4 linked regions of the Homo sapiens genome follow. The protein of the gene in region 2 purifies or fractionates together with the protein of the main gene of each other region. This does not show direct contact. Each region holds a gene or a part of one and is shown on either strand. Other genes may lie near its edges.

Region 1 (3,500 bases), on a different chromosome or scaffold from region 2:
ATGGCTGGGAGGATACATACCAAACTATTAACAGTAATTGGGGCGGAGAGGAAGAATTTCGTTTTTTGTTTTGTTTTGAGATGGAGACTTGCTCTGTTGCCCAGGGTGGAGTGCAGTGGTGCGATCTGGGCTCACTGCAACCTCCACCTTCTTGGTTCAAGCAATTCTCCTGCCTCAGCCTCCCAAGTAGCTGGGATTACAGGCACCCACCACCATGCCCAGCAAGTTTTTTTGTATTTTTAGTAGAGACAGGGTTTCCTCATGTTGGCCAGGCTGGTTTCGAACTCCTGACCTCAAGTGATCCAGCCGCCTTGGCCTCCCAAAGTGCTAGGATTACATTCATGAGCCACCACGCCCGGCCTCATTTTTTACTGTATATATTCATCGTATATATTACTGGTATAAAAATGAACAAAACCGAAAGGAAAAAAGGATAAGAAATTACTCCCTGAAGAATGAAAAAGGCAAAAAGATTAGCAGGAAATTCATCAATGATATTAGGGGAACATTGTTTTTAGGATATTCCCAAAACTTTAGGATTGGATAGGATCCATGGTGTGTATTTTGGCCAGGGCTGTATAGTAATAACTCTGCCCTTTTGTTTCTTTGTATGTTCAACTTATTCTTCTTATTTGTCTCTGTTCTAAAGGTAACTCGGGACCAAATGAAGATGTTTATACAGCAGGAATTTAAGAAAGTTCAGAAAGTGATTGCTGATGAGGAGCAGAAGGCCCTTCATCTAGTGGACATCCAAGAGGCAATGGCCACAGCTCATGTGACTGAGATACTGGCAGACATCCAATCCCACATGGATAGGTTGATGACTCAGATGGCCCAAGCCAAGGAACAACTTGATACCTCTAATGAATCAGCTGAGCCAAAGGCAGAGGTAAAGGAAAAGCCCATAATTATTAGTAGCAAGAGAAATAGGAGGAAACTGATGCCATATTTGTTAGACCCCATGTGGTCCCTGAACGTGAATGAATTGAAGTCTAGGTAGAGTATAAGTGTTTCACATGGTGTATAAACCAGTATGGAAGTATTGGCCACTAGTTTACTCAGTGGCTGGGCCTACCAAATTATTTATCCATCATTACTTTAAGGAGTATAGTCAGTGGGGGCAGATACTAATCACAATTAAGAAAGGAAGCCAAAAATTACAGCCAGAGAAGAGGGCAAGCGACAGACCCCAAGTTGTGAAATGAGCCTTTAAAGTCATCATAGACCTGGGCTGAATGAGAACAAATCATGAAGTAGAGCATAAAGCAGGCCAGAATGAAAGATTTTGGACTTACTTTGTACATAGTGAAAAGGTGTCTCAAGCTGGTTGTTATATGGAGCCAGCTGCATAAATTGGAGGCATAACTGCTGGATTAAGAATGGCATGTGCACTAGGGCATTGTAAGATTAAAAAAAAAAAAAAACTATGAATGAAAGACACAAGGTAAATGTTGAATCACTATACAAATGTTAGTTGTCATATTCATTGTTATTTTTAACGGGAATAAAAGGGTCTTAGGCATTTTACCAAACAACATATTTAGGCATTTTGAATCTACTTTGAAAAAATTATTTAAGGTAGCCATTAAAAAAAAAAAGTACAAGCTGGGCTCAGTGGCTCACGCCTGTAATCCCAGCACTTTGGGAGGCTAGGGTGGAAGGATTGCTTGAGTCCAGGAGTTTGAGACCAGCCTGGGCAACATAGTGAGACCCTGTGTCTACAAAAAAAAAATAAAAAAGTAGCAGACATGGTCTCACCTGCCTGTAGTCCCAGCTATTCAGGAGAGGTAGGAAGATTACTTGAGCCCCGGAGGTTGAGGCTGCAGTGAGCTGTGATTGTGCCATTGCACTCCACCCTGTGTGACAGAGTGAGATCCTGTCTCAAAAAAAAAAAAAAACCAAAAAACTTATATTTCAGCCACTAGAGAGAGGCTACTATTAATCAGATTTCATAATTTGACAATTCTAGTGAAGGTAATGCCAGATAGGTTTAGGGTAGGTCCTTCTAGAAAAAAAACATAGGAGAGTCCTGTGGACTTTCTAGGACTGTTGCTGACTCAGCAAGTCCATCCTTAACTGGACGTCCTGCCTTGGCTTGAGAGAGCCTGGCCACAGAATAAACTGGCCAGTAGAAGAGCCAAAGTAATCCAGGAGGCAGGTATTTCCAAGCTATCCTGACAGGAAATGTAAGAAACCATTGAAAGGTATCTGCTATACCCATCCAGGGCTTTTGATTAATTTTCATCAATGTGTGAAAAGAATAACTCTTCTTCTTTTCATTTTATTCTCCCCATAATTGAGAAATTATGTGCCTACATAAGTTTCTAGATAGGCAAGAGAGCACTTTATATTCATCATTTCATTTAATCCTTACGTCAGCATTAACTCCATTTTACAAATGGGATATTTGAGATACAGAGAACTGCAGAGATACTGACCCAATATCATTTAGTCAGTAGAAAATAGAGCCAGGGTTTAGATTTAAGTCTGTGCTATTTCAGTGCCTGTGCTTTCCCCCTACTATAAGACATATGCTAAGCATCCCATCTGTATCTGTGGGAAAATGAGAAGAATCCATGTTCTAGACAGCTTTGCATACCTTTACAATGTCAAGATGGTCAGTTTGTGTCTTAATAAACAAAAGGTTCAACCAGAGTTAATTCAAGGGATCGACAGCATAATTCTGTCCACAGTTCCTATCAAGTTCGACCCCTTCATTTATTCCCTATGTTGATTAGGTTGTTCTTTGAAAAATAAAAATTTAATTTTGGCTAGGCGTGGTGGCTCACGCCTGTAATCCCAGCACTTTGGCAGGCCGAGGTGGGAGGATCACCTGAGGTCAGGAGTTTAAGCCTGCCCTGGCCAACATGGCAAAACCCTGTCTGTACTAAAAATAGAAAAATTAGCTGGGTATGGTGGCGAGCACCTGCAGTCCCAGCTACTTGGGAGGCTGAGGCAGAAGAATCGCTTGAACCCAGGAGGTGGAGGTTGCAGTGAGCCAAGATTGCAGCCACTGCACCCCAGCCTGGGAGACAGAGTGAAACTCCATCTCAAAAAAAAAAGTTTAATTTTGGGGTTTATTCTTCTCTTTTATTTTAATCTATGAATTTAGTCCTTCTCTGACATTAGCTGTCCTTTAAGCACCTCAGCTGTACTATGCTTGTTAACTCTGATGGAATTACTCTTAAAGGGATGCAAGAGCTGACAAGGCTTAAGGACCAGGCTACAGACAAAATGAGCTATTAAAAACAGAGATAGCGTTCAGCCACTAGAGTGTTTACAAAGAGCTGTTATTATTTAATAGCCTCTTGTTCCAGTTAATCTGGTAACTTATTGGTGAGAGCAAATATCTAGTACCTGTCTTTCAGTCATCAGAGGAATTATGTTCTTTTTGTGGTATAGAATTTATCAAAAATCACCTGCATTTTGAATTCAGCCATAAGACCTTCCCTCCAACATTTTATTATAAAATTTTTTAAACATACACCACAGTTGAAAGG
Region 2 (3,500 bases):
GTAGTATTAATCAGTGGTAATATAGACGACTTGCAATTTGCCTCCTTTCCATATCCTCTGAATTTGGTTGTCCAGGAAGCAAATTTAGATTAAAATAATCTTCTGTAAGTATATGCTTGCTGCCCCAAATACCCAAAACAATAACCCTCATATCCCTAATACTCATCTTTCTCGAATACTTTGCCAATCACATGACTGTAACAGTTTGTACTGTAACAGTTTGTCTTTCCCATCACCAAATCTTGTTATTACTGGTAATGTTTGATGAGCAAGAGAGAAATAACTTCAAATGTTACTGTCTCTTCTTAAGTAGAGCTGTTTGCCCTTCATCTATAAGATAGTATCTGTGTATAGACGTCACTGTTCAGGAGCACTTTTTAGAGGCTGTTACCTTAGCTGCAGATTGGTTTTTGGCAAGTAATAATTTTTAGTTTTTATGTTATGCCACAATAATGTGTAAGTTTTCTATTTTTTTATTTCTTCAAATTCCCTTTACCACAGTTTTCTATTTTTTGTAGAACTATTAGTTTATAGTATTCAGGTTTATTACTCTATTATTTGTCAAACTTACTAGTTTACATTATTACGTTTATAGATTCCATGTCCAATGACATTGGGCATAGAAGCATCGAATTTTGTGTCAAGGCTGGGAGATGGAAACATAAGTGAATACATTTGTGGTAGACTCAAATCCAACTGACTTAGTTAAGTCTTAGGTAGTAACTTCTTCATGGTTATCTCCATTAAGAGGGAAAACTCACTTTTGTACTATTAGGTATTTCTTCTCTCTGAGATGTGAGGGATTGTCTTGCCGAGTTCAAGGGGTCTCTGTTCTCAGGATTATTGGCTTTTTAACTCTCCTTTCTCTCAGCCTTTAGTGACTTTGCAGGCAGTCTTTGCTTATTTAAGCCTCTATGAAAGTGATAGACCTGGTAGTTCAGGTCTTGTTATCCTTAAGATAAGTTATTCCAACACAGTAGAAAAGTATGCTTTTGGTGGGTTCTTCTGACAGGTACTAGACAGTCTATGACAGCTTGTTGTGTTGAATGACAAGCTATTTTCTTTCTTCCTTTTTTTTTTTTTTTGTTGTTGTTGTTGTTTTTCTGAGACGGAGTCTCACTCTGTCGCCCAAGCTGGAGTGCAGTGGTGCGATCTCTGCTCACTGCAACCTCCACCTCCCTGGTTCCAGCAGTTCCCCTGCCTCAGCCTCCCGTGTAGCTGGGATTACAGGTGGACGCCACCACGTCTGGCTAATTTTTTTGTATTTTTAGTAGAGACGGGGTTTCACCGTGTTGGCCAGGATGGTCTCGATCTCCTGACCTCATGATCCGCCCGCCTCAGCCTCCCAGAAGTGCTGGGATTACAGGTGTGAGCCACTGTGCCCAGCCTTCAACACCAAAGTTGTAAATTTCTAAGACCGTCTTAGCTAAAACCATTTTCTGAGAAGTGTGCATGTGTGAAACATAATTTCCTTGAGGAAAAATTTACTAATAAGTCTAATAAACCTCATAGTTTGGATATCCTTGAACCTCTTAAAATGTGGTTTTGTACTTATATTTCATTTTTAGATGCCAACACTATTTGTGGAGTCAGTTTTGGAAGTGCATGGTAAATTTGTTCAGCTTATCAACACTGTTTTGAATGGTGATCAGCATTTTATGAGTGCGTTGGATAAGGTAAGTTTTAAATACATATATACTATATATGTACATAAAACTCTATCATTCTTTAGGCAGTTTCAAGATCAGAATTCTAGTATGAGGTTTCTGATGTAGACATGGAGATTAAGTAATTTTGATATGAAATTCAAAATAGAAATAATATAATTTTTAAATTATTAACTGAATAGTTAAATTGAATGCTTGTAGAATGTCCCGTGATTATGCTATATAAGGGGAATTTTTAATCTGATATGTTCTGGATAGACATGCATAATTTTGCAATTTTTAGTACTGATTTTTTTTCTTTGGCCATAATACTTAGGCTATATTGAATAATATTTGAAAAGAGAATAGATATGTTTTACATGAACTTTTGCATACGTTAAAGGAAAGCTGCTTACAAGATTGTAAGTTTTTTTTTAAGTAACGTTATTTTATCTGTTCAAATTTCGATAATGAGTTACAGAATATCTTGGAATAGCAACAGGATATATAGATATTTTGTAATTAGAGAATAAAGTCAGAGGAGTCTACCATGTTAGGCATGAAAATATTAACAAACTACCGGCAATGCTGTGTTTTATGTGGCGGGGTAATTTTTGGATGTACAGATTATGGCTTATATTGAACTAGCTGTACTTTTTCCCTATGGCTGGTGGTTAATTATGGCGTGTTTTTTTATTCAGGCCCTTACGTCAGTTGTAAATTACAGAGAACCTAAGTCTGTTTGCAAAGCACCTGAACTGGTAAGTTTGGTGGTTGCTGAAAAGTAATCTTATGAAAAGTCAGTATTAGAAAATGAGAACTCAGAATATCAAATTAATTTGGTTTTTGTAGCATTTTTCAGAAAAATAGAAGGAAAATTATCTACATTGTATATAGTTTGGCATTTATGTAAGGAATGCAATATACTATGTGTCTTAAAGAATAACCATTTTACAAAGTTTGGGTTTTAATGTATATCTACTTTGAAATAATTTGCAATACTTTTCATGTAGATTCTGTTACATCTGAAATCTAAAGGAAATCTGATGATAAAGTTTGGGTAACCTTTGAAGGAAACTTGCTTACAAGATTTTTGTAACTTTTTTTTAAAGTACTTGTTCAATGTCAAAAATTATAAAACCACTCGAAACTCACCTAGGTGTTCTTTTAAAAATTTGTATTACTTATATCAGTTGCTTTATTGGTCAATAAGTGATGATTTGATATTTGACTTGTTCTTTTTAAAAATTTACCTTATGATGTATATTTTATTTAGTTTACATTTATGATTATTACATAAAGCTTTAGAAGCCTGGTGTGGTTGTGCATGCCTGTAGTCCCAACTACTTGGGAGGCTGAGGCAGGAGGATCCTTTGAGCCTAGGAGTTTGAGGCTGCAGTGAGCTATGATCTTGTCCACTGCAATCCAGCCTGGCAACAGAGCAAGACCCGGTCTCTAAAAAAAACAGCAAAAATTCTGTCCGCTGATCTTACCTTGTATCACCACTTTGCCTCCTTTGAGGCGTGATATATACAGAAGCACCCTTTGTAAGATTTATTATCAATTTCTACATGAGCTTGCTAAGTACTGTGACAACTTACTGAAGAAGTCAGCGAAAGGGATGACAGAGAATGAAGTGGAAGACAGGCTCACGAGCTTCATCACAGTGTTCAAATACATTGATGACAAGGACGTCTTTCAAAAGGTATGTTGTGAACAGAAAAGTTTCATTTGTATTTTGGTCAACTTTATTTCTGAATGCTAAATCATTAGAAAGGAAGTAATCTTTTAAAATATTTTTAAATGTAGTTCTACGCAAGAATGCTGGCAAAACGTTTAATTCATGGGTTATCC
Region 3 (3,500 bases), on a different chromosome or scaffold from region 2:
CCCAGCACTTTGGAAGGCTGAGGCGGGCAGATCACATGAGGTCAGGAGTTCGAGACCAGCCTGGCCAACATGGTGAAACCCTGTCTCTACTAAAAATACAAAAATTAGCCCGGCGTGGTGGCAGGTGCCTGTAATCCCAGCTACCCAGAGGCTGAGGCAGGAGAATCACTTGAACCCGGGAGGCGGAGGCCACAGTGAGCCAAGATCATGACATTGCACTCCAGCCTGGGCCACAGAACAAGATTCCATCTCAAAAAAAAAAAAAAAAAAAAGAGTCACCTAGTTAAGAAGTTAGCTCACCCCCAGTGTTTGACTGCCTGCCCTCTCTACCACACAGTGGCAGAACACAGAGGAGCTTTGTTAGGAAACGGAAATACACTGAATGGAGAGAGTGTGGTAAGTTTGTCTTCTCAGTGGAAGCACCAGCCTCACAGTTAAGTCCATATAGGAGGCCAAGGCAGGCGGATCACCTGAGGTCAAGAGTTCAAGACCAGCCTGGCCAACATAGCTTTCTACTTTCTAGTTTTCTACTAAAACTAGAAAATTAGCTGGGCGTGGTGACGGGCGCCTGTAGTCCCAGCTACTCAGGAGGCTGAGGCAGGAGAATTGCTTGAGCTCAGGAGGTGGAGGTTGGAGTGAGCCGAGACTGTGCCACTGCACTCCAGCCTGGATGACAGAGCGAGACTCCATTTCAAAAAGTAAAAAAAAATTAAAAATTTAAAATTTAATTTTTTTTTTGACGGAATCTCGCTCTGTCGCCCAGGCTGGAGTGCGGTGGCACGGTCTCGGCTCACTGCAAGCTCCGCCTCCCGGGTTCACGCCATTCTCCTGCCTCAGCCCCCCGAGTAGGTGGGACTACAGGCGCCCGCCACCATGCCTGGCTAATTTTTTGTATTTTTTAGTAGAGACGGGGTTTCACCATGTTAGCCAGGATGGTCTCGATCTCCTGACCTCATGATCCACCCGCCTTGGCCTCCCAAAGTGCTGGGATTACAGGCGTGAGCCACCGCGCCCAGCCAAAATAAAATTTTTTACTCCTTAGAAGGACTGGTGCGGTGGCTCTCGGCTGTAATCCCAGCACTTTAGAAGGCAGAAGCGGGCAGATTGCTTGATCTGGGTGGTTCAAGGGCATCATGACAAAACCCTGTCTCTACCCCCTCCAAAATACAAAAAAATAGCCAGGTAGTACACGCCTGTAGTCCCAGCTACTTGGGAGGCTTAGGTGAGAGAATCACTTGCACTCAGGAAGTTGAGGATGCAGTGAGCCATGATCACGCCACTGCACTCCAGCCTGGCCAACAAAGCGAGACTCTGTTTCAAAAAATAAATAAATAAATAAATACAGGAAATGAATATCACTGAATCATTTCATAGTAGGTGCATTTCTTGTATATCTCCTAGGTGTCTAGCATTATGCTAATTATTATAGAAGCTACATGAGGTCTATAAGATATGGCCCCTGGCCTCTAGGAGTTTACAGGGTAGTTGGGAAAATCGAGATATCTGGAACATAATATAAAACAATATCCAATTAAGTGCTTTTTTTATAATCACAGGTTTTGGACCAGAAAAGATGTTAGAGATTGCTGGTCAAACCTCCTTCCTTTCAGGTGAATAATTACTGTGAGGCAGTTCAGCTCCTCTGGTGTTAAAGCCCCAATTATCACTTATCTGCCCTCTCTTGCAGGAGTGAGCCTTAGGGCACAATTTCCAATTCAGTGTTAGAAGGTAGAGGAAGAGTTGGAAAACTCTTTGTAGTTTAGGAAGCACTTTCACGTCAATTATATCATTTATGCCCCTACAAACAGCCCCAAGAGGCAGGTATTATTATAACCGCTTTATAGGTGAGAAACTTGAGTCAATTCCTTCTCCAAAATTACAGTTAGGTCCCCATGCAGGAATAGGGAAAATGGATAGATGCTAGTAATTTAGGGACAATCTCCACTACCTGTCACTTACTTGCTAGTTTTATTATTTTTTATTTTTGAATGTATCTCTGTTTTTTAAAATCACCTGTTAAAGTGGAAGTATTCTCAGAGGAGCTGAAGTTTATCAGCTTTCCTTGGACTTCTCAGAGAGCTTCTTAGTGGAAGGCCAACTGAAGAACCCCATTAGAAGGAGAGAAAGAAGGAAGAAAAAGATCATCACATAGAAAAGGGAAGAGTGTCAAAGACAAATGATAACTGCATGACCAAGGAATTTGATATCACAGTGAAAGAGGAATATTGGATGAGGGCAGAAAGAAAAGAAAGGCAAACAAGGGATGGCAATTGAGAAAACTTGAATGTTTTTGAAGGCAGGAGAAATGAGTTTTCCCATTCTGAAGATAACAGAGACTGAACATGTCATTGTAGCACCATGTACTAAAGTACACTTGGAAGAAAACCCTCTTCCAAGATTCTCCGTATTAGCTGATGTCATTGCTATACTCATCTTTCCTATTTGGGGAGACAAGTTGTCAGGATGGAAAACAACTGTGGTCTTTTCATTCAGAAAACATTGATTAGGTAGACAGAACTGTGTGAATTGCTATGGGGGTAGCAGGGACATAAAATAGTGCCTGCCCTTTGGGAAATTAATAAAATAGAATGGAGCTAAGAGGGACACATCCAGAAAGACAGAGCCATACACAGGCCCATTCATGAAAAGCCACAATCTGTATAACGAAGAACCAAATAAATGAATGGCCCAACAGCAAAAGCCTCCGGATCATTATTGCTGATCCATTATCTTATATAATATGTTAATAAGCATTTTGATGAGAATTGTGAGCATATTTATGAGAAGGAAAGAAATGTTATTTAATTGTTTTTAGAGGTAAGGGCTACTATACATGCAATGTGCATGCACACAACAAACACACACACACACACACACACACACACACACACACACACTCCCCTTAGTCATAAACCTAATTGCTGAATACTATTCCTGGCCAACACACAGAACATGATTTTTGTCAGTCAGGACACCGCACAAACACTTCATCTGCATACCATCCTGGGCACACCCTGGAACTTAGCATGTCATGGCTCTCACCCCATCCACAAATTTGCATTCCCCTCTCTGACCACAGCCTCCTTATTAGTCGCCTCTCCCACTGTCCCACACCCAAAGAACCTGTCATTCAGCCACACCAGAATCCTTCAGGCACCTACCTTCCCAACTTCATGAGAACATGCCCAGGCCCACTGAGTCTCTCATCCAGCCTGGACCCCATGACAGGAGGGTAGCTTCAAATACTCCTCCACTCATGATGATTTCCTTGACCCTGGGAGCTCCTGACATTCTAATTCTCAATTAAAGGTCACACCCACTGCCACCACTTTCTATGCAGCTACTACTGTTCCAGAATCAAAGAACTTTGCCAAAGCGAGGTGCAGAACCACAGAAAACTCACCATTACAAACCTGTGGATTAATGCTTAACAACCCGGACAGGACCCAGGGCTGCCAGAACATTCTTGCAGTCATATTTGTTGGTCTTTTTCTAGAAAC
Region 4 (4,049 bases), on a different chromosome or scaffold from region 2:
AACTAGCGGGGGAAGGAACTTACATCCAGTGTGCACCAGACCACTGTCCTGGAGAGGGACTGGCACAGAACCCAACCTGCATTCTGTCGTTCATGCACTCTTTCTAAGCCGATCAGGCGGTCTCCCCTGTACACTTGATCGTGGCTTGAGCAGGCAGCTGCCTGGGTTTTAACTGGGAATTGAGAAGGCTGGGGTCCGCTGAGGAGCACGCTGCGAAGGTGCGCGGTCCGCAGACGGCCTCCCGGTGGGTTTTGATCATGAAGACCGATTCCGTAAACTCAGCGCCCACTGTGGGGCCAGGGGGTTCTGCACAAACCAAGGCCCTGCCCCTGCCCTGAGGTGGAGCTACAGGCAGGACAAGTTGTGGCCACCTGCCCCTTGCTGGACTTGTAAGGAAGAGCAGGGTACGGGGAGGGGCGTCTCGAGGCCTTTCCAGCCGTCACTTTGCCGCTGCCCCGGGGGCGGTCGGCCTTGGTCCGGGGTGGTGCCAGGAAGAGGGGCTAAAAACCGTGGAGCGCGCCCCGGCCCGATGGCTCACGCCTGTAATCCCAGCACTTTGGGAGGCCAAGGTGAGCGGATCACGAGGTCAAGAGATCGAGACCATCCTGGCGAAACCCCGTCTCTACTAAAAAATACAAAAAATTAGCCGGGCGTGGTGGCGGGCGCCTGTAGTCCCAGCTACTCAGGAGTCTGACGCAGGAGAATCGCTTGAACCCGGGAGGCGGAGGTTGCAGTGAGCCGAGATCGCGCCACTGCACACAAGTCTGGGTGACAGCGAGACTCCGTCTCAAAAAAAAAAAAAAAAAAAAAAAAGACCGCGGAGCGCGTGGCGCCTCCCTGCCCTAGGGACTAGGGGCGGTAAAGAGAGGAGGCTGCGAGGTCGCTGGACGGCTGGGTCATGGCGAAGGTAACGGGAAAGCTCCCGACCGGACCCAGCTGCCTCATCCCCACACCCTGCAAGGCCAGGCGGCCCGGCGGCCCTCCAGCGGCGCGCGGCTCCCGGAACCCAGCGCCTCAGTCCTCGCTTGGCCTTGGACGCCCTCGCGCGGAGGCCTCGGGGCACGGCCGGGCGCAACAAGCCCCGCCCTACCGTTGCAATTGGTTCTCGAGCTAAGGCCTAGGCGTTTGATTGGTCAGCTTTGGCGAGAAGGCGGGACTAGGGCGACAGCCGCGGACGCCGAGCGGCCAGATCAGGGACGCGGGGCGGGCCCTGCGTCCGCCCCTCCCGCCGAGGCTGAGCCTGAGACCCGGGGCGGATCGACTGACGCCGGGGCCGGGATGGCGACGCCTCGGCCCTGCGCGGACGGGCCCTGCTGCTCGCATCCCAGCGCGGTGCTCGGCGTACAGCAGACGCTGGAGGAGATGGACTTCGAGAGGGGTGAGGCTGCCGCGCGGCCCTCGTGGTTCTCACCAGGCCCCGGCCCAAGGAGGAGGCGTGGGGCCAAGGAGAGGCGGATGAACGGGGCCCCGAGAGCTTGGGGCTTGGGGCTTGGGGCCTGGTGCGGGAAGGCGGGCGGGACCCACGGTTCCCGTGTACTGAGAGCCTCCCAGGGCCCCGCACGAGCTCGGCCAGGAGACACCTGTCCCGCGGGCGGCGGGGAAGCGGAAGCACTGGTTTCCGTAACCCTCCCGAGTAGCGGGGGACGACCTCCCCTGGGAGACACAAGCCTGCTCAGGTGTTTGAGAGAGGGCCCGGGGAGCAGAATCTGCACCAGGGGCATTGCACCCAACCTGAGGGGCATGGAGCTGCAGGCCTGGGGGCTGCGCGGTGAAGGAGAGCAGTGGCCTTTGTTTAGCCCCGGGTGCCAGGCAGCCTGCATGCTTTAAAGATGGCAAGAGCTTCGCACGGGCAGCCTTCGAGGCAGGGCACAGTATCTCATCTGTGGGACCCAGAGAGGTAACACGTTTGGCCCAGATTATACAGAGATTATGGTGCCAATAGGAACAGAGGAAGGCGGGAAACCAGGGTGCTTCTTGTGAGCGTTGGGAACCACTGTGCTGTGTCATCTGCCCTTGCGGATGCAGCCCTCGATTGCCACTGCTGTGTAAGCATTCTCATGGAACTCTTCCTTTACCGTGGTTCTGGCACCTGCCTACTTCCCTCCGCCCCTCCTACCGCTGTCCTCTGCACTGCTGAAGTGGTTGCCTCAGAGGGTCTTTCTGCTTCCACGCTTGCCTTCCTACAGGGTTTTCTACTCTCACATAGCAGCCAGAGCGGCTTTTTGAAAATTAGAAATCACATCATTCCCTGTTATGGCCTACAAAGCTCTGTAGACCCACCCCTGCCGGTTCTACTTCTCCTCCTCATTTTATTTCTCATGCTTTTCTTCCCCCAATCACTACGCCGCAGCCACACTGGTCTTGTTTTGGTGTCTCAAATATGCAAGACCTTTTCCTGAGTTAAGGCCGTTGGACTTGCTGTCCCATCTCCTTAGAATGAACTTCCTACAACCGTTAAGCTAGCTGATGCTTTTCTTCAGATCCCAGCTCCAATGTCATCTCCTCAGAGACCCTCCCTAAACACCCCAGTTCTCAACTGGGGGCAGTTCTGCCCTTTAAGGGACTTTGAATATCTGGAGACATTTTGGGTTGTCACAATCAGGAGGGTGCTACAGGCGTGTAGTAGGTAGAGATGAGAGATGCTGTATACATGGTACAATGCACAGGACAGCTCGCTACAATAATCATCCGGCCCGTAAGTGTCAATTGTGCTGTTAAGAAGTAAACATTGCCTTATCCAAAGTTAGGCCAGTTACTCTGATGTATCCATCATCTTGCTTTTTTTTTTTTTTTTTTTGAGATGGAGTCTCCCTCTTTTGTCCAGGCTGGCGTGCAGTAGCGCAATCTCGGCTCACTGCAGCCTCCGCCTCCTGGGTTCAAGCGATTCTCCTATTCTCCTGAGTAGCTGAGATTACAGGCGTGTGCCACGACGCCCGGCTAGTTTTTGTATTTTTAGTAGAGACCGGGGTTTCACCATATTGGTCAGGCTGATCTCGGAACTCCTGACCTCATGATCTGCCCGCTTTGACCTCCCAAAGTGCTAGGATTACAGGCGTGAGCCACCGCACCCGGCATCTTGCTTTCATAAAAAACAATTTTTACCGCAAACAATTTCCTCATTTTTTTGTGCAAACAAATACATTCTTTAAAACATTAATGGGAAGAGTGTATTTGATAAGCCAGTTTTAGCTACTGTTGTCACAAATAAAAGAAACTGTGAGATTTGTTAATCCGCTTCACTACAGTAACTCTTTGTTGTTGTTGTTGTTGTTTTGTTGTTGTTGTTGTTGTTGAGTCGGAGTCTGGCTCTGTCCCCAGGCTTTAGTGGCGCAATCTCGGCTCACTGCAAGCTCCACCTCCCAGGTTCACGCCATTCTCCTGCCTCAGCCTCCCAAGTAGCTGGGACTACAGGCGCCCGCCACCATGCCCGGCTAATTTTGTTTTGTATTTTTAGTAGAGATGAGGTTTCACCATGTTAGCCAGGATGGTCTTGATCTCCTGACCTCGTGATCCGCACAGTAATATATCTTTTTTTTTTTTTTTGAGACGGAGTCTCGCTCTGTCGCCCAGGCTGGAGTGCAGTGGTGCGATCTTGGCTCACGGCAACCTCTGCCTCCTGGGTTCACGCGATTCTTCTGCCTCAGCCCCCTGAGTAGCTGGGACTACAGGCGCGTGCCACCAAGCCCAGCTAATTTTTGTATTTTTAGTAGAGACGGGGTTTTACTCTGTTAGCCAGGATGGTCTCGATCTCCTGACCTCGTGATCCACCCGCCTCGGCCTCCCAAAGTGCTGGGATTACAGGCGTGAGCCACTGCGCCTGGCCAATATTTTTCTATTTATCATTTTGTACTACATTTTGGGTGAATTCCAAATCACTAATTCTCTTTGACTAGGTCTGCAGTACTCTTTGACCCATCTATTGTTGTTGTTTTGTTTCAATGAGTCTGTTTTTTAATTTATCAACTTTCCTGTTTCAGATCTGGCTGTTTTGTTTTTCCTAATGTTCTGTTGATTTGTGGATTCTATCCCTTTGTCTCTGTGAACACCTT

What was found.
Region 1: the proteins of CUL2 (region 2) and TRIM44 purify together in Homo sapiens (affinity purification with mass spectrometry; 3 studies listed by BioGRID and IntAct, with this or other methods). This does not show direct contact.
Region 3: the proteins of CUL2 (region 2) and CSTA purify together in Homo sapiens (affinity purification with mass spectrometry; 2 studies listed by BioGRID and IntAct, with this or other methods). This does not show direct contact.
Region 4: the proteins of CUL2 (region 2) and ANKRD39 purify together in Homo sapiens (affinity purification with mass spectrometry; 2 studies listed by BioGRID and IntAct, with this or other methods). This does not show direct contact.

Annotation. Positions count from the first base shown.
Region 1 is NC_000011.10:35,725,275-35,728,774, forward strand, and holds part of TRIM44 (tripartite motif-containing protein 44), read left to right. Parts: intron 1-649; coding exon 650-889; intron 890-3,500. UniProt on the Homo sapiens protein: May play a role in the process of differentiation and maturation of neuronal cells. May regulate the activity of TRIM17. Is a negative regulator of PAX6 expression.
Region 2 is NC_000010.11:35,031,342-35,034,841, reverse strand, and holds part of CUL2 (cullin-2), read left to right. Parts: intron 1-1,568; coding exon 1,569-1,676; intron 1,677-2,347; coding exon 2,348-2,407; intron 2,408-3,222; coding exon 3,223-3,351; intron 3,352-3,455; coding exon 3,456-3,500.
Region 3 is NC_000003.12:122,328,248-122,331,747, forward strand, and holds part of CSTA (cystatin-A), read left to right. Parts: intron 1-3,500. UniProt on the Homo sapiens protein: This is an intracellular thiol proteinase inhibitor. Has an important role in desmosome-mediated cell-cell adhesion in the lower levels of the epidermis.
Region 4 is NC_000002.12:96,855,217-96,859,265, reverse strand, and holds the start of ANKRD39 (ankyrin repeat domain-containing protein 39), read left to right. Parts: upstream 1-1,249; 5' UTR 1,250-1,278; coding exon 1,279-1,378; intron 1,379-4,049.